Linked DNA regions of Homo sapiens. The protein of the gene in region 1 purifies or fractionates together with the protein of each later gene. This does not show direct contact. Each region holds a gene or a part of one and is shown in the gene's direction. Other genes may lie near its edges. The genes, in order: SLCO4C1, ABCB8, NTPCR, ATP2C1, ETFA, ST7L and LAPTM4A.

The links.
Region 2: the proteins of SLCO4C1 (region 1) and ABCB8 purify together in Homo sapiens (affinity purification with mass spectrometry; one large-scale study listed by BioGRID and IntAct). This does not show direct contact.
Region 3: the proteins of SLCO4C1 (region 1) and NTPCR purify together in Homo sapiens (affinity purification with mass spectrometry; one large-scale study listed by BioGRID and IntAct). This does not show direct contact.
Region 4: the proteins of SLCO4C1 (region 1) and ATP2C1 purify together in Homo sapiens (affinity purification with mass spectrometry; one large-scale study listed by BioGRID and IntAct). This does not show direct contact.
Region 5: the proteins of SLCO4C1 (region 1) and ETFA purify together in Homo sapiens (affinity purification with mass spectrometry; one large-scale study listed by BioGRID and IntAct). This does not show direct contact.
Region 6: the proteins of SLCO4C1 (region 1) and ST7L purify together in Homo sapiens (affinity purification with mass spectrometry; one large-scale study listed by BioGRID and IntAct). This does not show direct contact.
Region 7: the proteins of SLCO4C1 (region 1) and LAPTM4A purify together in Homo sapiens (affinity purification with mass spectrometry; one large-scale study listed by BioGRID and IntAct). This does not show direct contact.

The regions. Positions count from the first base shown.
Region 1 is NC_000005.10:102,251,285-102,254,784, reverse strand, and holds part of SLCO4C1 (solute carrier organic anion transporter family member 4C1), read left to right. Parts: intron 1-3,500. UniProt on the Homo sapiens protein: Mediates the transport of organic anions such as steroids (estrone 3-sulfate, chenodeoxycholate, glycocholate) and thyroid hormones (3,3',5-triiodo-L-thyronine (T3), L-thyroxine (T4)), in the kidney.
Region 2 is NC_000007.14:151,038,450-151,041,949, forward strand, and holds part of ABCB8 (mitochondrial potassium channel ATP-binding subunit), read left to right. Parts: intron 1-1,818; coding exon 1,819-1,852; intron 1,853-2,048; coding exon 2,049-2,185; intron 2,186-2,378; coding exon 2,379-2,473; intron 2,474-2,649; coding exon 2,650-2,783; intron 2,784-3,500. UniProt on the Homo sapiens protein: ATP-binding subunit of the mitochondrial ATP-gated potassium channel (mitoK(ATP)). Together with pore-forming subunit CCDC51/MITOK of the mitoK(ATP) channel, mediates ATP-dependent potassium currents across the mitochondrial inner membrane.
Region 3 is NC_000001.11:232,949,111-232,953,410, forward strand, and holds the start of NTPCR (cancer-related nucleoside-triphosphatase), read left to right. Parts: upstream 1-1,500; 5' UTR 1,501-1,600; coding exon 1,601-1,634; exon of another isoform or gene 1,635-2,046; intron 2,047-2,217; exon of another isoform or gene 2,218-2,439; intron 2,440-4,300. UniProt on the Homo sapiens protein: Has nucleotide phosphatase activity towards ATP, GTP, CTP, TTP and UTP. Hydrolyzes nucleoside diphosphates with lower efficiency.
Region 4 is NC_000003.12:130,974,084-130,977,583, forward strand, and holds part of ATP2C1 (calcium-transporting ATPase type 2C member 1), read left to right. Parts: intron 1-1,248; coding exon 1,249-1,405; intron 1,406-3,500. UniProt on the Homo sapiens protein: ATP-driven pump that supplies the Golgi apparatus with Ca(2+) and Mn(2+) ions, both essential cofactors for processing and trafficking of newly synthesized proteins in the secretory pathway.
Region 5 is NC_000015.10:76,304,970-76,308,469, reverse strand, and holds part of ETFA (electron transfer flavoprotein subunit alpha, mitochondrial), read left to right. Parts: intron 1-3,500. UniProt on the Homo sapiens protein: Heterodimeric electron transfer flavoprotein that accepts electrons from several mitochondrial dehydrogenases, including acyl-CoA dehydrogenases, glutaryl-CoA and sarcosine dehydrogenase.
Region 6 is NC_000001.11:112,609,142-112,612,641, reverse strand, and holds part of ST7L (suppressor of tumorigenicity 7 protein-like), read left to right. Parts: intron 1-1,638; coding exon 1,639-1,801; intron 1,802-3,500.
Region 7 is NC_000002.12:20,034,629-20,038,128, reverse strand, and holds part of LAPTM4A (lysosomal-associated transmembrane protein 4A), read left to right. Parts: intron 1-514; coding exon 515-591; intron 592-690; coding exon 691-813; intron 814-3,066; coding exon 3,067-3,162; intron 3,163-3,500. UniProt on the Homo sapiens protein: May function in the transport of nucleosides and/or nucleoside derivatives between the cytosol and the lumen of an intracellular membrane-bound compartment.

The DNA.
Region 1 (3,500 bases):
CCCTATACTGTAGTCTATTACATATACAATAACCTTATTTCTAGAAAAGCAATGTACAATGTATATACCTTAATTTAAAAATTATTTATTGCTGAAACATGCTGACAATCATCTGAGCCTTCAGCAAGTTGTAATTTTTTTGCTGGTAGAGAGTCTTGCCTCAGTGTTGATGGCTGCTGACTGACCAGGGTGGTGGTTGCCAAAGGTTGGGGTAGTTGTGGCAGCTTCTTAAAATAAGACAATAATGAGCAGTCAGAACACACACATCATTCATTGATTAAATTTTACTTCTTAAAGGGGCATGGTTCATGGTGTCCTGAAACAATTATTATAGTACATCAAAAATCACTGATCACCATAACAGAAATGATAATGAAAAAGTTTGAAATTTTGCAAGGTTACCAAAATATGAAATAGACATAAACTGATCGTGTACTCTGGGAAAAATGGCACTTGATAGACTTACTGAATACTATCACTATCACTAGGTTGCCACTAACCTTCAGTTTGTAAAAAACACAAGATTTGCAAAGTACAATAAAACAAAGTAAAGTAAAGCTAGGTAAGCCTGTCTATGGAAAGAACAGACTAAGAAGCTCAAGAAATACCTTTTCAGGGAGTGAGAGACAGAAGAGGTTCTGAGGATGTAGGGTTTCTAGTAGAGGGGTGCAAAGAATCTTTGACTTTTGCCATGGTAAGCACAGATGGGTAAAAAGAGATTTTGCATCCATGAATTAATGAATTAGGTTCATTGATATGTTCTTTGAAAGTCCCTGTTTAATATAACAGCATTTCCAAAAAATGTAAGATCAGGGGATATATATATATATAAATAATTTCAACTTTTAGATTCAGGGGGTACATGTGCAGATTTGTTACCTGGGTATATTATATGATGCTGAGGTTTGGGGTATGATTGATTCTGTTACCCAGGTACCAAGCATAGTACTGAATAGTTTTTCTTTTCTTTTTTTTTTTTTGAGATAGAGTCTCCTTTGGTCGCCCAGGCTGGAGTGTAGTGGCACGATCTCAGCTCACTGCAACCTCTGCCTCCTGGGTTCAAGCAATTCTCCTGCCTCAGCCTCCCGAGTAGCTGGGATTATAGGCGTGCCATCACACGCAGCTAAATTTTGTATTTTTAGTAGAGACAGGGTTTCACCATGTTGACCAGGCTGATCTTGAACTCCTGACCTCAGGTGATCCACCCGCCTCGGCCTCCCAAAGTGCTGGGATTACAGGTGCGAGCCACTGTGCCTGGCTAATAGTTTTTCAACACTTGCCCCACTTCTTCTCTTCTCCCTCTTGTATCTGCAGTGTCTATTGTTGCCATCTTTATTCCATAAGTACTCAGTGATTAGCTCCCACTTTTAAGTGAGAGCATGTGGTATTTGGTTTTCTGTGCCTGTGTTAATTTGCTTGAGATAATGGTCAGGATATTTTTCAATAATATTTTAAAGTAATTTATTATTAAATCTTTAATTGGGCACAATACTAAATTCGATTGCATGAATACTGTTTATTTTCCCACTGTTCCCCACTGCTCTTTTGTTGCCTTGACAATCTATAGGAACTTTGAGTCTTATTTTGGTGATCAGTGGTGGTAATGATGATTCATGTTTTACTTAAAACCTCATAGAATATAGAAATACCATAGTGTATACACACAGTATTTTTTTCTGTATCTGATCTTTAGCTAGAATTTTATTGATTATATGAAATAGCATCTTAAAGAGGCATATCAATATTTTGCAATAGTTTTAGGGAAATTTTAGCCTGTTATAGAGGCATAATTATAGAATACTTTGTATTTAAGAAATTAATGTTTGAATTCTACTTGTGGCAAACATAAAGATGTTTATATATGCACATTTATTTTATTATATTTTAAATCTATTAAACATTTCAAAATAGGATATTTTAATATTTTTAAATATGTATACACTAAGAAAATTTAATAAACTTCACAAGCATCTGCCGTTTTTCTACTAATAGCTTTCTAGTTACCTCAAGAAGTAAACCTTTGTAAAATATGTAGACTAATGTGACCACCCCTTGATATTAAGGAATATAAGCTATATTTCTTTGTTAATACTATAATTTGCATCATGCTGTCTTATACTTTGTATGATCTCAGTAATTATTTATCAATAACATGAGAATTATATATTGGGAACTTTAAAAATTGCTGTGTAAAGGCTATTTCTAGAGTTGCAGGGATGGTTTTTCTCTGGTTGTCTTATTTCTGCATCTATGTTATGAGCTCTGTGAGCGGACACTCTGGTGATGGCTTTTGTGAATGTGATCAACCCTTGATATTATCATCATACTTGATAAAGATAAATCTGGCAGCATCTGTGGAATAGATTTGAATAAGATGAGACTGCAGGCAGAGTGGCAGATTACTATCTTGATCACTCTTTCCTTCAGACTCCCTACTGATTTAGTCATTTTTTTCTCTTTAATTTGTTTTCTTCATGACTTTCTTGTTCTCCGCCTACTTTGTATGTCATCATTTTCCAACACAGTGTCGGTTATCTTCTAATACTTACAGAAATCACTCATTTACTGTGTTTGACCCCTGATGCAAGGAAGTTAGCTTCATGGTGGCAGAGGTTTGCTTCTCCTCCTCCCTCCCTTCTTCCCTTCCTTTTCCTTCTTTCCCTTTCCTTATCTCTTTCCCTTCCCTTCCTCCCTTCTTCCCTTCCTTCTTTCCCCGTTTCCCTTCCTTCTCGCTTTTCTCCCTTCCTTCTTCCCTCTCCCTCCCTCTTTCTCCTTTTCTCCTTCACTCCCTCATTCCGTTCCTTCTATCCATTTCTCTCTCTCCCTCAATCTGTCATTTCTAGTTCTAACTCTAGCTCCTTCTTTCTTTTAAATATAATTCTACCACCTTGAGTAGTCTAGCACATAATTGGTGTCCATTGTGTCTTTATTAAATAAGTGGACTCCCAAGACTTCAGTACCCTTCTCATTCCATACACTATATGACTGATCTTATAAATGTTCGTGGTTTCAGCTACATCTATGTCCAAATGGTTATTAAGAAATCTAGCTCCATTCAAGATTTCTTCTCCACCAAATTGGAGATACTCTTAATCTTATTACTTACAATACCATACTCATCATTGTTCTCCTGTACCTAAACACCAGGTTAGATATTAGGAGTCACCTTTGACTCTTCCATTCTTTTTTTTTTTGGAAATGGGATCTCACTCTGTTGCCCAGGCTAGAGTGCAGTGGCACAATCATAACTCACTGCAGCCTCAAACTCCTGGGCTCAAGTGATTTTTCTGCCTAAGCCTCTTGAGTAGCCTCTTCCATTTTTAACAGGAAGAGTCATCTTCAACCAATCCATCACCAAATCTTACTGATTCTACATCCAAAAGTTTTCTTTAATCTGCTTCCTATCATCATATGTTCTATCTTAGCTCTCCTTTATATTGTCATCACCTACTGTCTAGGGTATTGTAACTGGTCCCCTTTCTTCAAATTCATACTCTGTA
Region 2 (3,500 bases), on another chromosome or scaffold:
GCAGTGACCTGAGATTGCGCCACTGCACCCCAGCCTGGCAACAGCAAGACTCCGTCTCAAAAAAAAAAAAAGAAGCCCAGTGGCTCCCTTAATAAAATCACCCCTTAGCCCTCTGTGGTGGGCAGTGGTGGGACAGTCTCCCTGTGGGGAGGGTGGCTGCACTGTCCAGCCCCAACCCTCCCGCTTCGGGACCCCCACTTCCCCTTTAGGGCCTGAGACTCTGACTTTACCTCCCACCGTACTGCTTGGCCATCCAGCAGCTTTATGACACACACAAGAACCCCCAGGGGCTTGTCTGTGCTGTTTCGCTGGCTGCTCCCACAGCCACAGGCCCTAGACCCATCCTCTTGGAGGTCCTTCTAGCGCTGCCTATGTGGAGATTCTTCCCCACTCATCTTGGGGGTTTGGATTTGTTGCATAAAGCAGCTGATGTGTTTCCCACAGGGTCCTGCCAGCTAAGCCAAGGGCCCATGCATTGGCACTGGGGTCTAGCAGAGAGAGGGGAGCAGGATGGCCCGGCCTACCTCAGGCAGCCTAACCTATGAGCCCATCCTGAGTACTCCTGATGGAGATGGGGAGGTGCCCAGACAGACAGCAAGTGGGGCCCAGCCGCCTCATCAGAATCAGGGCCAGGCTCCACCTGGGAACAGGCCCGTAGCCTACAGCCCACGGCCCCTGAGAGCAGGGTCATCACACTCCAATGAGTCATGTGCATTTTGAATTTCAGTTGCTGCCCAGCCCCTTTGCCAGGCCCTAATGTCTTCCAGATCTCTGGTGGAGAATGTGCCCCTGCTCATCAACAGATAGCTGGCTGGGCTGGCTCCTTCCTGCCTGGTGCCTCCCCCGGCTGCCTTTAGCAAGTGCTGACTGCACTGAGTCCACTGGGACCTTTTCCTTTTGGGTTTCGAGGCTCCTCCCACTCACCCCCACCCTAGTGCTGGAAGAAGTGAGTCTGCAGCTGAAGGGTTGCTGGGGAGTCAGTCTTTCCTCTTACTTAGGAGGGGACCAGGCATACACACACTGTCACAGGTCAGCCAGGCCAGTCAGGGACCAGTGACTCACCTTCCTCCTCAGCCTCCTGGCAGCCGGCCAGCCCTACCCCGGCCCTGCCGGGACGAAGGAGGCCACCCACTGTCTAGACAGATAACACTGTGGGTATACTTATCTGCAGGGCAAGCTCATGAGAAAAATTTTTTTCAGGGAATTTTGTTTTGGGGTCTCCTGAGAGTTCCCCTGTGGCCCAGTGTCTTCTGTTTTCTTCTTTCTCCAAAAAGATTTAACATCACTTCTTCCACCTAAATGTCTGCCAAAGTCATTGCTTCCCCAAGAGTCTGCAGCATTAGATCTGCTCTCCCCTTCTAAGCCACGCACCCTTGATCTCTGTTCATGGTGGCGGCCTCCGCATCCTCAGGGCCGAGCAGGGAGTCCGTGGGTCAGCTGGGCTCCCTTCCTCGTGGGCTGATATCACCGCTGCATGTGTGCACAGGCCTCACCCTGCAGACCACAGGCCAGGGCACTGGAGGACACCCACAGAGGCCTGTGCCTTCACTTCCATTTCCTCGTGGAGCACCCCCTCCCAGGGGCTTGGGCTGAGCTGAGGGACAGCTGTCATCCTCATCTGGCCAAGGAGGGAGCCAGGGCTCAGCGATCTGGTGTTGCTACGTCCCAGGGCTCTACGCCCCCATGGTGCAGGAGCAGTCTCTGCATTTGGCCACAGGCCACCTGCTTCCTTGCTCCCCCGCCCCACCGTGGCTTCCTTCCCCTCCTCTGGCTCTTCTTGTTCCCATCTATTCCACCCCTCTCTCCTTTTTCTGACAGGTCCATGGCCAACCTCTCTGTCCTGTTTGGGCAGGTGAGTGGCCGGTAGGGTGGAGGGCCTGGGGTGTGGAGTTTGTGCCGTGTGTGCCGCTGTGGGAGCTGCCTATTGACTGGGTGTGGGCGGGCAGAGGAGCTGGGGAGACCCCAGCCCAGAGCCATGGCCACTCCCTGGAGATGCTGTTGTCACCCCTACTCCTGCCTCCCTGCGGACTTTGGATCCCCTCCCACAGGTGGTCCGGGGGCTGAGTGCAGGTGCCCGGGTCTTTGAGTACATGGCCCTGAACCCCTGCATCCCACTGTCTGGGGGCTGCTGCGTCCCCAAAGAGCAGCTGCGTGGCTCCGTTACATTTCAGAACGTCTGCTTCAGGTCAGCACGGGTGAGCAGGCGTGGGGATGGGTCCCTGGGCCGGGGATGAGGCGAGTGGATTCGGGGGTGGAGGTCTGGACTAATGTCCCCCATAAACAGGCCCTCTCAGAGGGCTACAGGGAGACTTCAGGAGGGACCCGGGCAACAAGGGCTGGGAGCCTGGTCTGACTGGGGGTCTCTCGGCTCCTCCCAGCTACCCCTGCCGCCCCGGCTTCGAGGTGCTGAAAGACTTCACCCTGACGCTGCCCCCTGGCAAGATCGTGGCCCTCGTGGGCCAGTCTGGCGGAGGTAAGGGGAGCCCACCACCTCTTCACCCTCTGACTCTTCTCTAGCAGCCACTCAGAGCAAGGCCGGGAGCAGTGAGCCCCCGGTGGGGTCCCTTCCTCCACTGCCACAAGGGGCCTTCTTTCCTGGGACAATCCCTAGAATCCCTGGCCTCCCTCCCTCTCAACCCAATTCCCCAGGAAAGACCACCGTGGCTTCCCTGCTGGAGCGCTTCTACGACCCCACGGCAGGCGTGGTGATGCTGGATGGGCGGGACCTGCGCACCCTTGACCCCTCCTGGCTCCGGGGCCAGGTTGTCGGCTTCATCAGCCAGGTGCGGGGCCACATGGGCAGCCCTTGGCTCCCACTGCCCGTCCTCCCCTGGGCCCTGCCCCCTTAGTCCTCAGGTGCCTTTTCTTTCTTTCCCACCCTCATCCTTGCTGCTCTCGGGAGACCCTGGCCGTCTTCACATGTCCTCAGCTGTTGTCTGGGTGAGGCATCCCTGTCGTGGGAGCAGCCACAGCTCTGCCTGGTCTCCCAGAGCAGGGACGCTTTGTCCGCATTTACAGCAGTCTACACAGATGGGGAATCCCTCAGATTCTCTGCAAATCCCATAGCATCCAGGTCTAGAGAAGCCTATAGTGGAGGTGCTGAGCTGCAGCCGTTCTCCCTCTGCTTGAGGTGGCACTGCCCAGCGAGGGTCCACCCTTCCCTTTGAGGGCCGTGAATGAAGAGGGCATGCCTGCTGTCCGCCAGGGAGAGTGCCTGTGCAGAAGAAAGGCAAATGCAAGCCCCCAACTCCCAGCGCCCTGCCCTGCCAGCTCCTCCCACTCCCACTCCTGGGGAGGGATTCTGGGCCCTTGGTAGGAAGTCGAACTGTCCTTCCCTTTTGGGGGCCACTCTGCATCCTCACTTCACCTCTGACTTTGAACGTCTGATTCTTCAAGAGATCCTAATCTAATCCACCAGATAGACTGTCCCATTGTGTATGGTGGCCCCTCCAGTTTCTGGGGCAAAGAGAATGTTTCTATGGACTCTGTCTCCATAACCC
Region 3 (4,300 bases), on another chromosome or scaffold:
TTCAACATATATGGACTGCAAAATAAATCAAGGTGGAAGGCCCTACATTAACAGTTGGGATAATAAATAGTATACTGTTATAATAATAGAGCATTACAAATGTTGCAGAAATGATGGTGATGACAGCTATATTTTACAAATCCAACTTTGTTTTTTTAGATAATCATTGGACTGGCATATGTCTCAGGCTAAAGGGAAACCAAGAGGTCCATGTGTGGGCAGAAACCAATTAAGTTGAGCACTCACTGAACTGCTTTCTCAGCCAGGATGGGGAACGACTGACTACAAATTAAGCTGTACACATGTTAGACTGAAAGAGTTTACAGGTAAATGTGGCCCAAGGCCACTGCCACGTCATTCGTTGGCCGGAACACTTGCAGTGGTAAAGTGAGACGGAGAAGCTATTTAATTCTTTGCAAGAGGAGATCTTTATACACTTTGGTGTGAAAGTAAAGAGGGAAAACTGGGCGTCCTATGCATGGCTGAGGACGGGAAGCCTGCCTACACCAGTGGTTCTCAACCCTAGCGCACTTCAGGAACTTCCTGGAGTTTAGAAAGAAGAAAAAAGAATACAGGTGCTCAAGACTCGCTCAAGACCAATTACTCATGTTAAACAAGATTTATGGGAGGCCATTGTTTTGGACTAACCTCCTGCACTAGGTCCTAGCAGACTAGACCAAACCAGAATGGAGTCACTTGTGCCAAGTGCCATGTAACCAAACTGAACTTTGAAACAGGCCCGTTTTCCCAAAAAACAGGAGATTGTAGTTAACCTGAGTCAGTACAATAACGAAGTCCAATCTGTTTTAACCCTATAAGGAAAGTAACTTTGAAATACCCACTCTTTGTTTTGTTCTTCAGCCTTTTTTTGCCCATAAAGCCAACCTCCTCTGCACAACTCATTGGAACACTCTATTTGCTTTATGAAATGATCTATTTCTCGATTCTAGATCCTAAATATAAGCCAATTAGATCTTTAAACTAAACTTGTAATTTTGTCTTCTGACACTCCCTATTACTGCAGGTGAAACCCAGGCATCAGAGCAAGTTTAAAACTCCCCAGCTGATTCTATTCTGCAGGAATGTTTGAGAACAAAGTTGGAGTCATTAACATGGCATCCCCCTTTGAGGAATGCTTCCAGGTCACAAACCTTCTACAAAAGGGCTGTCCCGGCAGCCTTGGGCAATTTCAGCTCCTAGGTCCGGAGTCAAGGGGCAGAACTTGGGTGATGGCGCTGACTTGAAGCAGCAATAGTTTAATAACTGACGTTCTCACGCACTTATCTCTGCAAATACCCCACAAAAGCCCTGAACCCAGAATGAAACTTAAGAGACCGTACAACCCGCTCCGCCTATAGGAACTGCCGCGGCACAGGCGCCAATGCCGAGGGCTGAATGCGCAGGCGCGGACCGGGGACTCGGGAGAAGGCGCATGCGTGGTCTTGAGGGCGGTGCTTCCGGTCAAAGCACCGCTTGGGGGCGGGGCCTGCGACACGCGGTGGGCGGGTCCTGAGTCGCGACCCTGGTCCGGACCTGACCTGAATTGCGACCCCAACCTGGACTGCTCCCCTGACCGCAACCCCTACCCCCGCCCACCAGTATGGCCCGGCACGTGTTCCTAACGGGGCCCCCAGGTAACCCTGAGGGGATCCCCACCTCCAAGAGGTCGAGGGGGTGGGGGCGCGCGGGCTGCGGGCGACCTTGTGCTGTCGGGGAGGGTCTCCGGCTCCAGGGCTCCGGCCTCTGAAGTTCCCAATTTAAATGGCGGGCTTGGTAGTCTGAAGAGTTTGTACTCCTTCCCGGAAAACGTGATTTAAAAGACACAGGGCCTAAAGGATTAGAACACACTTGTGAGGGGGTCCTAGACTGGCTTCTTGATGAAGGGCAGAAACCGCAGGGGCCAGCGGCAGCGGTAACTCCTACTGTAGTGTTGACGTTGTGGTCTGCACAAATGGTATTTCAAGAGATCTGCGGCAACCGCGATGTGAAGTGGAGATGTCTAATTTCTGTTGATAGTCACAGGTATTTCCTTACTGTGGGTCTTTGCTACATTGATCGTGCAAAAAAAAAATGGTAAATTTTAGTTGGAGGACAGCGAAACTGAAGTTGTAACCTTTCTTTCCCATCTAAGTTCATCCCCCCACCCCCATCCCCATCTCCATCCCCACGAATTCCCTCCACAGCTGAGGCCAGAGGTGGAGAAGCTTTGGTACCTACAGGAGCCCTTCTCAGACACTCTTGCTTGTTCCTGTCGCTGTCCCCTCCTGATGTCTGTCAGATCCCTCAACCCTGTGGCCTGTGGAGTTCTCATCTGAGAAGCAGGATAGCGTTGAGGTCAGATGAGAGGTGTAGGAGGAGGTGCTTTTAAACCAAGGCGCTACCCATGTATCAAGCATTACTAAAAAGGACAGGTAGGCTGCATCAGATAGGCTAAAAAAAGATAGATGGGCTAAGAGTGGAGAAAGTGATTTCTTCAGCTCCTTTGCAAGGCAAATCTAATTTTGAAGTTTAGTGTGGGTTCAGATATCAAAGGCTGTAACCCTGGATCTAGAATTCTCTTTCACTTTATTTTAATGATTATGTTTAGTTGTAAGTAGCAAAGGCTACAGCTAATATTGCAGACTTTGGGATTTTGTCAGGCATTGGATGGGGGAGTTGGGGAGCAGGGGGTGAGGAGGAGGAGGGTGGTTTGAGAAATGCCTGCTATCTAAAGTCACTCCTAAGTATTGCAAAGAACTGTTTTCTGAAAGTTGGTTTGTCAATCCTTTATTTGAAACTTGGAATGCAGTTTGATACTCAGCAGGCTGACCCCAAGACAACTGTGTGTTTTATTAATGGAGGTGTCCTGTTACCGTGATTGTATTGATGGTGGTTCTTGTTTCTGCTTTATCAAAGTCTTACCTACACGTAGTTGAAAGACTCAAATAATTCTACAGTGTAGCTCTCTTAAACCTGTCCTCAAACCCACGCACCTTTGTCTTTTCTCCTTCTCTTCTTAATGTAGTTACAGCGTAATTTTCATTAGTCAATGTTTACAGTATTATGGCCATGTAAAGACAATCACAACAGAGCCACATAGTAATCTATGATTTCTTTTCCATTTATTTATTTATTTTAGAGACAGGATCTTGCTTTGTCACCCAGGCTGGAGTGCAGTGAAACAGTTATAGCTCACTGCATTCTCAAACTCCTGGGCTTAAGTGATCCTCCCACTTCAACCTCCTGAATAGCTGGATCTACAAGCGCATGCCACCACACCCGGGTATTTTTTTTTTTTTGTAGAGACCTGTCTCTTGTTATGTTGCCCAGGCTGATCTCCAACTCCTAGCCTCAAGTGATCCTCCCATCTGGGCCTCCCAAAATACTGGGATTATAAGTGTGAGCCACCTTACCCATCTTTTTTTTCCCTCTTCTTATTGAGACAGGGCCTCTCTCTGTTGCCCAGGTTGGAGTGCAGTGGCACAATCTTGGCTCACTGCAACCTCCACCTTCCAGGCTCAAACCATCTTCCCACCTCAGCCTCCCTAGTAGCTAGTACTACAGGCATGCACCACCATGCCCTCTAATTTTTTTTTTTTCCTTTTACACATAACTTTTTTCCCCATTAGGAGTTATTGTCAGGTGTTTTTATTTGCCTAGTTTCTTTCTGTTTTCTCAATATGTTCAGACCATCAGGTAAAGTCTCCTCTCAAAGAGGTCACTTTTTGTTGCATATCCTCTTAGTGCCCCTGGCACTTAGCATTTTTTCCGATTTCCAACTGTCTGTACCCATGACTCATCTTGGAGGGCTTTCTCTGGTCCCTGGAGCCCACTTGGCCTGCAAACAGAGCAGGCCAGAAGAGCCAGGGAATTCCTGTGCCCTGGGATTAGCCTTCAACCTGTGATTGGTGAAAGTTAGTTGATAAATTCCCTACTTTCTCACTCCTCAGACAGGATAACTGAGCCACTTGCCCTGACTTGTCCCTTAGGATTCCCCAGGGGGTTGAAGCTCCAGCTGCCCCCAGTGGAACTTGCTTGACAGTGCACCTCATGCTGGTGTCCTTCCCTTCCCTTTCTGAATTTCTTCCCTGCCAGTCCATCATGTTGTCACTGCCCAGGTTAAACTACCTGCACTTGAATCTTTATCTGAGGATCTGCTTAGGGGAGAACCAGAACCAAAATAATTCCAGAGCTTTCTGATCTGTTTGTGCCTGGTATACAGCTATCATCTCGAGGTCTCCTGAAGCAGAGGTCATTTCTTATCCAGACAGCATTGGGGTAGCAGCTTAACTAATGAAGAAAAAATTAACTGAAAGAAGAT
Region 4 (3,500 bases), on another chromosome or scaffold:
AGCTTATCTGCTTCTTTGTTGTTGTGAAAAAATACCATGAGAAGGGTTTTATATTACATTGAAGAGTTTAGGAAGAATGAATGATAGGTATACAGAAAACAAATTAAAGAGGTGGTTATTAACTTTATAAAAGACAAAACTTGAACAGGAAAAGAAGTATCCTATTTGAGCTATCAATCAGGATAGGCCATGAAAACAACATCATGCTCTCCTGCTGCCTCCCTGTCCCCAAATATCTGCTCATTGTAGTTACTTGGGAATGCAGGCAGATGGAAGCTCCATTTTAATGTGAGCACACACTGTCACAGCAGGGGTAGAAGAATAGGAAATTGTGCACTGGCACCTACATTTCCATTTGGAAGTGACACAAGTACTCATGTTTATTGGCCAAAGCAAGTCATACCTGACCGTTGTGGAGTGAGGACGGCAATAGGGAAATACATTCCTGCCTCCCAGGAGAACTGGGATATTTGTGAACTGCTATAGTCATTACCACACTTGGCTTAGCAGCAAAGAGTCTTGTTGTAAACAAAATACTGGCAGATTTTGCTTTAGCTATATCATAAAGATGGGGAGGGGGGGAATAGATAGTGGAAATGGGGAAATTAACATCTGTCACAATAGACAGTGTATAAAATTGATAACTGATGGAGTAGCAGTATAAACATGTTAAAAACATGAGGGTAAATATCAGAGAAAACAGCTAAGAGAGTTAAAATTATTTTGCTTCCATGGAGTAGGACTAGTGGTGAGAAGCGTTGAACAGGAAACTGCAGTATTTCATTATAAGCTTTTGAAGATTATTTACCATGACAAAAAATAAAAGAAAAAGTGCGATAATACCCATAAATACAGTGTGATTGGGAGAATTAAATGGTGTTTTAGGTAGATAGATATAGACGTATATAGTAGCTAATAGAGAACTTGAACCATTGTGAGCTGTTATTTCTCTTCCATTTCCTGTTATGTTGCAGTGAGCCTCTTTCCACATTTCAGAGTGCCAAATTTGGGGCTTAGTATAGCATTGCCTTTTATGTGTGGGATGGTGGGATAGATGTTTTCTATAGAAGATACAGAAAGCTCCCCTATAGGAATATTTAATCTTCAGAGTTCAGGTGGCAGTCAAAACCTTAGGCTTGAGTAACTTCTCTGGGAATTATGAGAAATGAATGCCACTTAATTTTGGACTCCAATGGCAGGTAAGTACAAGTTGAAATTAAACTTGTGTTTGGTACATTTTCTTCTTAGGACAGACCAGAGATTTGTTTTATGAAAGGTGCTTACGAACAAGTAATTAAGTACTGTACTACATACCAGAGCAAAGGGCAGACCTTGACACTTACTCAGCAGCAGAGAGATGTGTACCAACAAGAGAAGGCACGCATGGGCTCAGCGGGACTCAGAGGTAAGGCTATTTCAGCATAGTCCCCTGGGGTGGAAAGGTAGAGCCTTCTTTTAATTGCAGATGAATTCATGCTTCACATTTGAGCTGTCCAACTCACTTCCAGGATTTGTAGAACCCTTGCCAGTATTGAGGTGTTAAGTTTTAGTTGGTTAATTGGCCCTCAAAAGATGGAAATTTGAGAATGTAGCAAAATATGAATCACTGGTTCTTTTAGATCTCCAGAGGTCTCTGAGTAGCTGATAGAAATTTTATTTTAAACAAGTTTATCTTATGAGAAGGGAAATGGATCGAGGTAAAATGGTGTTACTCTCTTTTTATCACTTTGTTTTAAAGACAAAAATACTTTTCTAAAAATTGAGTCTGAAGCCTCTAATATATCCTTTAAGGTGATTGCTAACTTGATCTGTTACTGTTCACCAGGGAGGTAAAGAAGTCCCCAGATTCTGCTTACTTATATGCTGCTGACTGAGCAGTGATGGGGAGAGGGTCTGCTGGACACACACACATTAGGCCACCTCTCCTAGGGATGTCATGTGTAAGACTCGGGGGTTGGTGGTTGGTGTCCTAACCTGATTCTTACCTTCTGGATAGTCATCTGGCTTCTGCAGAATATATGTAGTTATGTAGTCTCTCACAGCAGTTGGAAGAGTTGGCTTCCTTAATTTTATTATTTTAATGAAATAGGAGTCTAAGCACTACAATTTCTGGGAGGAAGAAAAACAAGTTATGTGAAAAATGTTTTTATTTGTTGTTCACTTAAGCAAAGGCTTTTTTTGAGTTTTAAACATTTTGATGGATTTATAGGGCTTCTGTTCTTAAAATAAACTAAGTTTGGAAAGGTACTCTTACCAGCAGAGAACATTGCTCCCAGCCTGCTGCCATTGCCCTTCTCTCTGAACCTTCTGTGCTGCTGAACCAAGATCACTCCTCATACCCCTGCCCCCAGAGCCTGGTGCATCTCATCTGGGATATGGGCTGTATTGTGACCATCTTAACACTTCATCCCCTGTCTCCAAGGAAATGGGAGGCAGAGACTCATGGCTGAGAAGTTATTTTGCAAATGGATATTTTGGATGGAAAAAAATTTAAAGGAAAACAACTTTTCCTTCCCCCTTTCCCCTTTTAATGTAAGAGGCTTTGATGACAGGTTCTAGAGTTTCTGGGGTTTCATCCCAAAGGCCTGAATCTGGAACATGCCCTGGATCCCCCCACCTCAGTCCTCAAGCTTTCTGGACCCCTGAAGCCAAGGCAGATTCTTTCTCCCAGCGTCATTTCTGGGGCAGGAGGAATCTCTTTTCTGGTTTACCTGGGCCAGACCTAAGAATAGCAGGATCTCTGAAACCACAGGGTTTTGATGTGTTTTTATCAAGCCAAATGTACAATTGCCAACTGACACTCTGGATAATTGAGCACAGGGGGTGCCCTCGTACATTGTACCGTCACTCCCTTCTGAACAGTTGGCAGACCAAACTGTTTGGAAGCTCAGATACTCTGGCTCAGGGTAACACTTTTGTTCCCCTTACACTCCTCAACTTTCCACCTCAGCTAGGGAAAGAGAATGACAGTTAAGGCTTGACCCAGGATTATAATCGTTAGAGCAAGTGGGAGTTTCAGAGACTTAAGGGGCACTGCAGGGAGGCCTTGCTGCCACAAAATTAGGGTTTGGATTGATAAAGCCTGTGTCGGAAGGGGCAGTGGCAGCTCCACTGAGACAATCCTGGGAAGACTGTGGTGCAGAGGGCCTGTTACTCCCCTGATTCACCTGATTCTGGGGCTTTGACCCTTTCTTTTTAAATTTACTTTTGCTAAGTTGCACTTATTTATTTTTTAAAAAGACCGTTGGTGAACAAAATGTGAACCCATTTCTTTCCTCTTTTGAACTTCTGGGATGTCATCACTTCCAGTTTGTTGGCTTTGTTTCCAGCTATTAATAAAGCATTAAAAGAGTGGAGAAAAAAAGGTAGGGAAGTGGGCAGAGTCTTGCTACTCTTAGCAGCACATAGCAAGAGGTTTTAAAGTGGCATGGATTTAGAGGACTTAAAGAGGTCTTGAAGGTCTAATATATGCTCCCTCTTTTTGTTAGTTTCTGGAACAA
Region 5 (3,500 bases), on another chromosome or scaffold:
GTGTTCCCCGTGCATCATATTAGCAGGTACTTAATGTTGGTTTATCCCATTAGTGGTAATGCTGACTTTAGTTACTTAGCCAAAGTGTTGTTTGCCAGGTTTCTCCACTGTCAAGTTAATACTCCTCCTTTTGTAATTTTTAACTAATTTGTGAGGCGATTCATTGAGACTATGTGACTGTCCTATTTCTCATCAGACTTTTACCCAGTCTTAGCATCTGTTGATGATTTTTGCCTGAGAAATGATTACTATGATGCAAAATGGTGATTTTCTATTTCCATGATACCTTCGTACATTTTTTAGTTATTCTACTATAAGGAAGAACATTATCTTCTTGCATATTTATGGATTTATGGATACATGGATCCTTATTTAGGATAATACATTTCTACCTTATGCTGAAGTTGTCTCATGTTTGTAAAGTGGGGCCCATTCAATCTGACTCCTGTTTGTTTACATATATATGTTTGTGATATCACAAAGTCAAAATAGCTTATCTCAAGTCCCCACTCTTGAAATTAAAAAAAAAATGTTCTGTAGCTAACCATTAATGCATTTAGGAAGAGGATACATTTCCAAAACCATATTTAAAAAAATAAAGTTAGGAATTACAGTTAAAAGATTACCATAAACTGTTAACGATGTGCATATAGTTAACACTTAACACTTAAAAATGGTTAAGATGGGGCCAACCATGGTGGCTGACACCTGTAATCCCAGCACTTTGGGAGGCTGAGGCAGATGGATCACCTGAGCTCAGGAGTTCGAGACCAGCCTGCGCAACATGGCGAAACCCCATCTCTACCAAAAAAAAAATTAGCCAGGCGCCATGGTTCACACCTGTAGTCCCAGCTACTTGGGAGGCTGAGGCACGAGACTTGCTTGAACCTGGGCATTTGAGGCTGCATTGAGCCCAGGTAGCACCACTGCCCTCCGGCCTGGGCAACAGAGTGAGACGCTGTTTCAAAAAAAAAAAAAAAGGTTAAGATGGTAAATTTTATGTATTCTTTTAAACCACTTTGTTAAACTATTAGGATATAAGTTCAATGACTTGCATTTGGTATCTAAGTTCCATTTTTAGTTCTGACTGATTTGTGCCATTGAGTAAAGTCTTTCATCCTTATGTGTGTGGCAATGGTCTTTAAAGTCATCTGTTAACAAAGATAGTTTTTATATCTATAATAAAGAGCTAGAGAACACACCAAGAGGCAAATAGGTAGGCATTTGCAGTTAGTTAATATTCTTGCAGGGATATTAATCCTAATTATTGTTATTTATTAATTTGCTCTTGAAATTGATTTATTGAAGAATAAGAAGATGCAGAAAAATATTTATGTGGTGAGTGAAACAACAATTTCAAGGTCATTTGAGTACTCTTTTTACTGTGTTTATTGTCAGGTGGGAAGGAATATCTATCAGGACTGAGAAGCTATGAAACTGGTGTGAAGGAACATGACACTTTTCTGTCTAGTATTGATGAATAAGATTGAACTCTGTAATTTGCATGCAAATTTTAATTTCTATTGAAAGAAGAAAGAGAGCCAATTTTGGTGTGATTCTAAAAGAAAATTTATTGCATAAGGTGAATTCAGTAAAATTATGATGCCTGCCAATGTGTCTACTAAGAGTCTTGTCCTTTCTTAAAGTGAAGTAAATTGACTGTGTTTTTAGTATTACAGTCAATGTCATATAACATTTCTGGTCATGATTAAAAGCTGCTATATTTTATTACTAAAAGGATTAAAGGAAGTATTTAAAGTACAGAAATATACATTTTAAAAATTACAAAATGTATGTTAAAATAGGGATAGGTGACTTTATATATTATCCTTTTGGGTATGACTCAGAAAGATTTTATAGCTTATTCTTGCTGTTTTTCTTTTTTTAATTAAGAAGCAAAAAAACCGGCTGGGTGCAGTGGCTCATGTCTGTAATCCCAGCACTTTGGGAGGCTGAGGTGGGTGGATCACGAGGTCAGGAGTTTGAGATTAGCCTGACCAACATGGTGAAACCCGTCTCTACTAAAAATACAAAAATTAGCTGGGTGTGGTGGTGCGTGCCTGTAATCCCAGCTACTTAGGAGGCTGAGGCAGGAGAATTGCTTGAACCCAGGAGGCGGAGGTTGGAGTGAGCTGAGATCGCGCCACTGCACTGCAGTCTGGGCGACTGAGCGAGACTCTGTCTCAAAAAAAAAAAAAAAAAGAAGCAAAAAAACCCTCCCCTGCCCTCTATACCCTCATTACACCTAGTTTCCAAAGATGGTTGGGGTGGAGGTATAGGTTACAATCATTCTTACTACTTTAGGTTATGAGTGGGTTTGTAAGGGTAGAGAGTTAGATTCCAGCTTTTTTTCTTCTTCTACCATCTGTGGTACTTTACTATGTGAATATACAGTTCAAGTCACAGCAAGAACTCTAAAAAACTGACAAGCAAAAACAATGTCAAAAATGAGGCTGATGCTGGGCACAGTGTCATGTGCCTGTAGTCACAGCTACTCATGTGGCTGAGGCAGGAGGATCACTTGAGTCCAGGAGACCAGCCTGAGCAACATAGCAAGCAAGACCCAGTCTCAAACAAATACCCACCCCCACAAGAAAAAAAAAAAAACAACTATTGAGGTTGAAAAAGAGAAGGACCAAAATGTGTTCATTGGACTTAGCCATAATGAAGTTTTTGGTGACTTTGGAAAGATTGGATTCAGTGTTGTGAAGGTGAAAGCCAGTTTGCATGAGTAACTGAAAAAATGGAAGGTGAGGTAATAAGAGTTGGTGTCTGTGGAAATTATTTTCAAGAAATTTAGCTTTGAAAGGGTGCAGAGAGGGTGATAACCTCTTTAAATCCTGCCCACAAGAAGTATACTATCTTATAAAGGCCAGTCAACTTTATATGGGTATGTGGCTGGCATGAGAAAGAAAACTTCATATTTTGCTATTTGCAACCAAGTCTAAACAGAGTATAGAGAACTTCTCTAAAAGCATGATGGTGTGTCTGTTTTAGTGATGTAACAGTTTATGTACTGTTTAGTTACCCTTATACATGTTTAGTTGATTACATTATCAATGAGGAAACAGTTGCTTTTTAGTTTTTGATAATTTTAAGAAAAGTTTTCATTTAGTTACTATTCATTGAGTGCCAACTGTGTGCCAGAGAGGTAGATACCAAGTTCACAGTGGAGAACAAGACAGACCTAGTCCCTGCCCTTGTGATGCAAACAGATTAAGGAAGAAACACATTATTTTAAGTGTGGTCATTGTTACAGAACATAGAGGGTGTTTGGGAGAGGTTTAATCTTGTTAGAGGACTGGAAAACACTGAAAGGATATCTGTGAAATTATGTTTGCACACTGAGGTGCCTTAAACTATTGTTACTGAGTGATAAAGTAATAGAGCGGAGGATTTTCTTTCTTTCTTTCTTTCTTTTTTTTTTTTGAGACAGAGTCTCACTGTTGCCCAGGCTGGAGTGCAGTGGCGCCATCTCGACTCACTGCAGCCTCTGCTGC
Region 6 (3,500 bases), on another chromosome or scaffold:
AAAACATTAGTGACATGATAGAAAAAATGCTGCACCATGATTTTCTCACACTTTCCTATAAACGTTGTGGCATGTAGTCAGCGGGCCCCAACATGACTATACTTTTGGCACCTATGTAGCATATTTGTTCTGTTATTTACTGAAGCAAAAAAATAACATTCCTACAGATTTGAAAATGCTGATTTTTTTGTGATGGGTTCTGTTTGTGGTCATAGTAAAATAGTTTTCAAAAATATTATAATCTGGCCGGTCATGGTAGCTTACACCCATAATCCTAGCACTTTGTGAGGCCAAGGAGGGCAGAGCGCTTAAGCCCAGGAATTTGAGACCAGCCTGGGCAACATGGCAAAACCTTGTCCCTACAAAAAACATAAAAATTAGCTGGGCATGGTGGCACATGCCTGTAGTCCTAGCTACACGGGAGGCTGAGGTGGGATGATCACCTGAGCCCAGGGAGGTCAAGGTTTCAGTGAGCTGTGATCATGCCACTGTACTCCAGCCTGGTGACAGTGGGATCCTATCTCAAAACATTTTAAAAAAAGGAAATAAAAAGATTAAAATCTCTTAGTTGTGCATATGCTTTGTTTATTCTTTAAAGTAATACATGTATCCACTACATTTGGCAGAAGACTAGTCTGTCAGGTGACTTTTTTTTTTTTTTTTTTTTTTTTTGAGACAGGGTCTCACTCTATTGCCCAGGCTGGAGGGCAGTGGTGCAATCTCAGCTCACTGCAGCCTTGACCTCCTTGGGCTCAAGAGATCCTCCCACTTCAACTTCCTGAGTAGCTGGAACTGCAGGCATGCACCACCTCACCCAGCTAATATTTTATTTTTATATTTTTCTGTAGAGATGAGGTCTCACTGTTTTGTCCAGGCTGGTCTAGAATTCTTGGGCTCAAGCGATTCTTCTTGAGGATCCCTCTTTTGGGACTTCTTGGCCTCCCAAAGTGCTGGAATTACAGACGTGAACCACCGTGTCTGGCCTGGTTTCTCTTTTTATATCAGTGATAAACCATGGAAATAGAAAGAAATGAATATCCTGATTTTTAAATGGTTCAATATGGGAATCAACTTGACCTTAACCTTTATTAATAATTTTGCCAAATACCAGAGTAGTACTTTTTGCTTCAGAAAGCACTTTCTTATAATTCTTGTTAACCACATTTAGCTGAGGCTCTGAGATATTAAGAGATTAAGTGACTTGCCCACAGCACACAGCTAATAAATGACTGATTTGGGAGTTAAAACATGGGCATGCTGATGCTAGTCTAGTCTGTTCATCCACTATGCTTATTATTTGAAAACTGTTTATGCTGCAGATAGAATAAAATGACAATGTAACTTAACAGAGTTAAATTACTTATAGATTAAAATGCTTCTTTCTGTTTTTAATGCTTTATTACATATGCCTAGTTTTGCTTAAGCTTGTCTAAATTTTATGACGGAACTATAAAAAATGTATTTCACTTTTACGTGACATGTTATTGGTGAATCTTGTGTTTGTATGTTTTTTTCTTTTTGAAAGGAGAGTGCATTTAAAATGCTGAATTGAACAGGACATCTTGAGAGAATGTTTTAATTTGAGCTCATGTATCTGCTGATCGATTCTAAGTGCAGGATATTTTCTGTTTGTCATAGATATTTGAATGGTGGTACTTCCATAAGCATGGCACATCTTTTATTGAGCAAGTATCTGTAAGCCATTTGCAACCACTGATGGGAGGAACAGAGAGCAGCATTTCAGAACCAGGTTCTCCTTCGAGGAACAGAGAAAATGAAACCAGCAGACAGAATTTGTCAGGTGACTACTTTTCTAATGTGTTTTCAGAGCTGTGTATTTAAGATTGAGTTTGGCTCTGGGAGATAGAAAACTCAAAACAGCAGAGTGCTGTGGTGTGCATGTTTGTGTTTCCCCCAAAATTCTAATCACCAATGTGATGTTACGAGGTAGGGTCTTTGGGAGGTGATCAGGTCATGAGGGCAGTGCCCTCAGGGATGTGATGAATGCCCTTATGAGAGACCCCAGAGAGCTGCTTGCCACTTCTACCGTGGGAGGACACCACGAGAAGGCGCCGTCTGTGAACCAGAAAGCAGACCCTCACCAGACACCAAATTTGTTGGTACCTTGGTCATAGACTTCCCAGCCTCCAGAACTGTTAAAAATAAATTTATACTGTTTATAATCTACGCAGTTTGTGATATTTTGTTATAGCAGTCCAAATGGACCAAGACACAGAAATTTGTCTTTCATGTTAATATAGTTAGTCCATGGCTAGTATGGAAAACAATAATCATCAGATACCCAGACCCCTTCTATTTTGTTAGCCTGCCATCTCCAAATGTAGTTTTTACTTTGTCGTGTAAGACTGTTGCTCTTGCTTCAGCCATCATATCCACATTCCAATCAGTAGGAAGGAAAGAAATCCGGGGTAAGGTCACTACTTCCCTCTACTCCACCCCACAGAAGCCAAGGACTATTCTCAGAAATGTTACATACTATTTCACCTTACTTCCTACTGGTCAGGTCTGTTTCATATGGCCATTACTAGCTATAAGGAAGGCTAGAAATTTTCATCATTTTCTCAGTGTATATATATATATACGCCCAGCAAATCAGGGAATCTTATGACTAATAAAGGAGAGAACAGAAACAGCCATCTCTGCCAAGAGAGAAAAGTAGGAAAAAAAATTTTTTTCAGTATACTTAAAAAGGCATCAAAGTCTCAGCTCTTCATGGATGGATATTCCATTGTCATACTTTTATTGTAGACTGTTCCTCTATTTGTGTCGAGTAATCGCAAATTTATTTATTTATTTAGTTAGAGACAGAATCTTGTCTGTTGCCAGGCTGGAGTGCAGTGGTGCGATCTCGGCTCACTGCAACCTCTCCTTCCAAGTTCAAATGATTCTCCTGCCTCAGCCTCCCGAGTAGCTGGGACTACAGGCATGCACCACCATGCCTGGCTAATATTTTGTATTTTTAGTAGAGATGGGGTTTCACCATATTGGCCAGGATGGTCTCAATCTCTTGACCTCATGATCTGCCCACCTTGGCCTCCTAAAGTTCTGGGATTACAGGCGTGAGCCACCATACCCAGCATTTTTTTTTTTTTTTGAGACGAAGTCTCTGTAGCCCAGGCTAGAGTGCAGTGGTGCAATCTCAGCTCACTGCGACCTCTGCCTCCTGGGTTCAAGTGATTCTCCTTCCTCAGCCTCCCAAGTAGCTGAAATAACAGGCATGTACCACTGCACCCAGCTAATTTTTGTATTTTTAGTAGAGATGGGTTTCACCATGTTGGCCAGGCTGGTCTTGAACTCCCGACCTCAGGTGATCTGTCTGCCTCGGCTTCCCAAAGTGCTAGGATTACAGGCGTGAGCCACTGAGCCTGGCCAGCTAGAAAGCAAATATTTTTAATGATACATAATTAGGAAAGGAAAATTTACAAAGCCAAATACAATTATTATTATTATTATTTTAATAGAGATGAGGTCTCAGTATG
Region 7 (3,500 bases), on another chromosome or scaffold:
ATGTATGTAGCATTCTGAGTTTAATACACTTGTCTTTTAAGCAATTGCCAGCCATTCCTTCCAGCTAAACCCTACTCATAAGACCCATCTTGTGTCATTTCTTCATATTTTTTCCTGATGCTTCAGGCAAAGCAAATTGTTTCTGCCTCTGTTGTAGCACTTGACACATTGGATTATAATGATCTGTTTGCACATCTTCAGATTCCTGGGCTCATAAGGGCACAGGGACCTGTTTCTCTAGCAGAGAATGTGGTTCATGTGCCATCCTACACCCATGTCAGTGAGTCGTTGGAGCGATTTAACAAATAAGTGCTTTGTGTGAATGTCTCAAGGTTCCTTACTTCATGCTGAGACTTTGATTTTTTTTTTTTTTTTTTACCCTCTTGGCCTTAGATCTTTTTATAGCCAATTTTGAAAATATTTAAATTTAATATTTTAAAGCTAGCTTTAAGTGAAGTTTTGTTCTTTTTGTTGTGTAAGTAGCTTAATTAGATTTTTGTTTTTGTTTTCTTAGATAATGCCTGTGTTCTTTTTGCCGTCTCTGTTCTTATGTTTATAATCAGTTCAATGCTGGTTTATGGAGCAATTTCTGTAAGTATACTGTATTTTCATCTTTTAGAGTTTGACCTTAGGGGAGCTTAGTAATTTCCTATATGTGATACAATGTTATGGTTGTTATTTTTTCTCCAGTATCAAGTGGGTTGGCTGATTCCATTCTTCTGTTACCGACTTTTTGACTTCGTCCTCAGTTGCCTGGTTGCTATTAGTTCTCTCACCTATTTGCCAAGAATCAAAGAATATCTGGATCAACTAGTAAGTGTGTATGCTCATTAAACTTATTTTTTTTTCATTTTGAGTAAAATGTTTACATTTAAATTCTGAATCAGCCTTAGGTATTATTTTTAACTACTCCGCTTGCTTTTGAAAGTGTCTTAAAATAATTATTTCTGCTCTCTTAGCTACTGTGACAAAACTGGCAAGATGAAAGTAGAGTAATTTCTTACCATCCATTTGGATAATGCAGTATTAAGAGTTCCTAGAAATGGATATTATGGAACTAGTAGTTCAGCTTTTGTTTTTGAGCATCCAAAGGTACAGTAATTTGACTGTGTATGGCACTCTTTAAGTGACTAGCTTATTGTCTTTACAGACATCTGTAGCAAGTATTCCAGTGCCTACTATGTTTTTAGCCCTTTGCTAGGCACTGTTGGTGAATGGTGTGGATATAAAGATAACTGCGAATATTACAGTTTAGCGAGCAAACTGTAATATTTGGGGAGTCAAGATACATGAAGATGTTACCTGTGATAACAAGCGGGAGCTGTCACAGCAGCAGCAAATAAGGAACTTCGATTAATGTCATATGGAGGGGGGCAGGGAAAACTCTGGGCTGGGTGGCCAAGGAGGGCGTCGTGGAGGTGGTCAGAAGGAGATATGGGATCTAGGTAGATGAAAATTGGCAGGAGTATCCTCAGTTCATTTCCAAAGTGCTGTCTTTCAGAACTTTTCTTCCCACTACCAGATTTCCTGCCTAGCCCATTTTCCACACCACCAAATTCATCATTCATTTATTCAGAAAACATTCGCTGGTTGCTCTTATGTGCAAGGCACTCTGCTAGGTCATAGAGATGCATCAGTGGAGCTTACTTCCTGGTGAAGGAATCAGGAAGTTGACAGTTAACTGATACACCATTGTAGGTTACTGTGGGAGTGGATATCACATGGGTACTAAACCTGGGCTGGGAAGTGAGATTTGAATTGTACTCAGGAGTTTGAACAGGAATTAAGATAGAGAAAGTATAGAAGACAATGTTCCAGATAAAAGAGAGACCTTGAGGCAAGAAGCAGCATAGTGAGGGCACTAGAAGCTGGCCATGGTGGCTGGCACACAGAGGGAGGGTGGGGAAGCCTGGAGAAAGGTGGCCAGGGGCAGGGCTGTTGGCCTGGTCAGCCACGGTCAGCGGCTTCTGTGTGGCTCTCTGCTCATGTCATCTCCGGGGGAGAAATTTCAAGTGGTGCCTCCCTGCCTTCTGAGTAAAACCCTTAGCATAGCATTCCCTCATGAGCTCCACCTTCTGTGTTTTTCTTTTTGTTTATAGATGAAGATCAAAAAAACAGCTTTTTTCCCAAGGAGACAACCTGGCTGGGGTTTGGGGAGTAGTGTGTTCTTAAAATTTTTTTTTTCTATTTTTTTCAGTCCTTTGGGATTTCTGTTTATGTTGCTTTTTAAATGAAAATGTAATTAGGCCTTCTTGTTGACATTTCCATTAAAAACAAGCATAACTTAAAAAAATTAAATCAGCTTTATAGAAAAGAAGATAAAAATTTATTATTCCTTTTAGAGACCCTGGTGTTTTCTCTCCTCTGTTTTGTTCACTTAGTGCCTCAGACTGGAAGGTATTTCCTCTGTTGGTTAGTTTTTAAATCTGAAATTCTTCTTTTATAACACCTTTCTCCCTGAACTTAGCTCATTGCCTTGTACACAGTCAGGGCTGATTAAGTATTTAAATGAATATAGCTGATGCTTTTCAGTAGAACAGAGTATGTCTGCAGTAAAACTTATGTCTTGCCTGACATTGTAACCAGTGGGTGTATTTTTGCCCCTGTCTGATGAGAGTTGAGACAAACGATTGACATTTAGAAAAATAATTTTCCCCTTGTAGCATTAAAATGGCCCAGTTTATCTGTAGAACTTACACAGAACTGAGCATCTCCTGAGTTAATGATGCAAGTGACACAGGGACTGATCTCCAGTGCCATATAGGCGATAGTGTTTTTCCAAAGGCCAGAAAGATGGAAAATAGTGAAAAGTAAAGAGAAAACGAGCTAAATTTAGACTTTTTGGAGCATTGTGGGTTATCAAATGTACTCTAAGTGATTGTTAGCATGCATTAATGGTGATAAGGCTTAAAATTTAAAAGCACTTTGAATTAAATTCTGCTTATACATTTTTATTAAATATCACTTTTGACTTTGGTGCCTTTGTATTCTTCAGATGCTCTTCAGGTTATCAGCAAGTGCTAGTGCGATGGCTGACTTGTAAATGTGTGTGTGTTTCTTTAATAGCCTGATTTTCCCTACAAAGATGACCTCCTGGCCTTGGACTCCAGCTGCCTCCTGTTCATTGTTCTTGTGTTCTTTGCCTTATTCATCATTTTTAAGGTACGTTGCTGACTAAATCTTTAGGGGTGACTGAGATTGACACTGTGAATCTAAACCTTTTTGCTGCCTTTCACCTTACAAGTCACAGGAGATTGAGGATTTGTGGGGACAGTGTTTATTCTGGCACATGAGCAGAGATAGCTTCTAGGGAATGGTTTCTGTTGTGTTTCCAAGGAATGGTTGTAACTGTCAGGATCCTTCTCTGAGTGAAAGGACCTACTTTTTATGTTTTTGAAAAGGGGTTCATGATTTGTATTGAAAATCTGTTAAAATTCCCAAGGTTCACAAACCCAGAATTTCTTCTGCAGCACAGTGGGTTGACCTGAATTGAAGCTCCA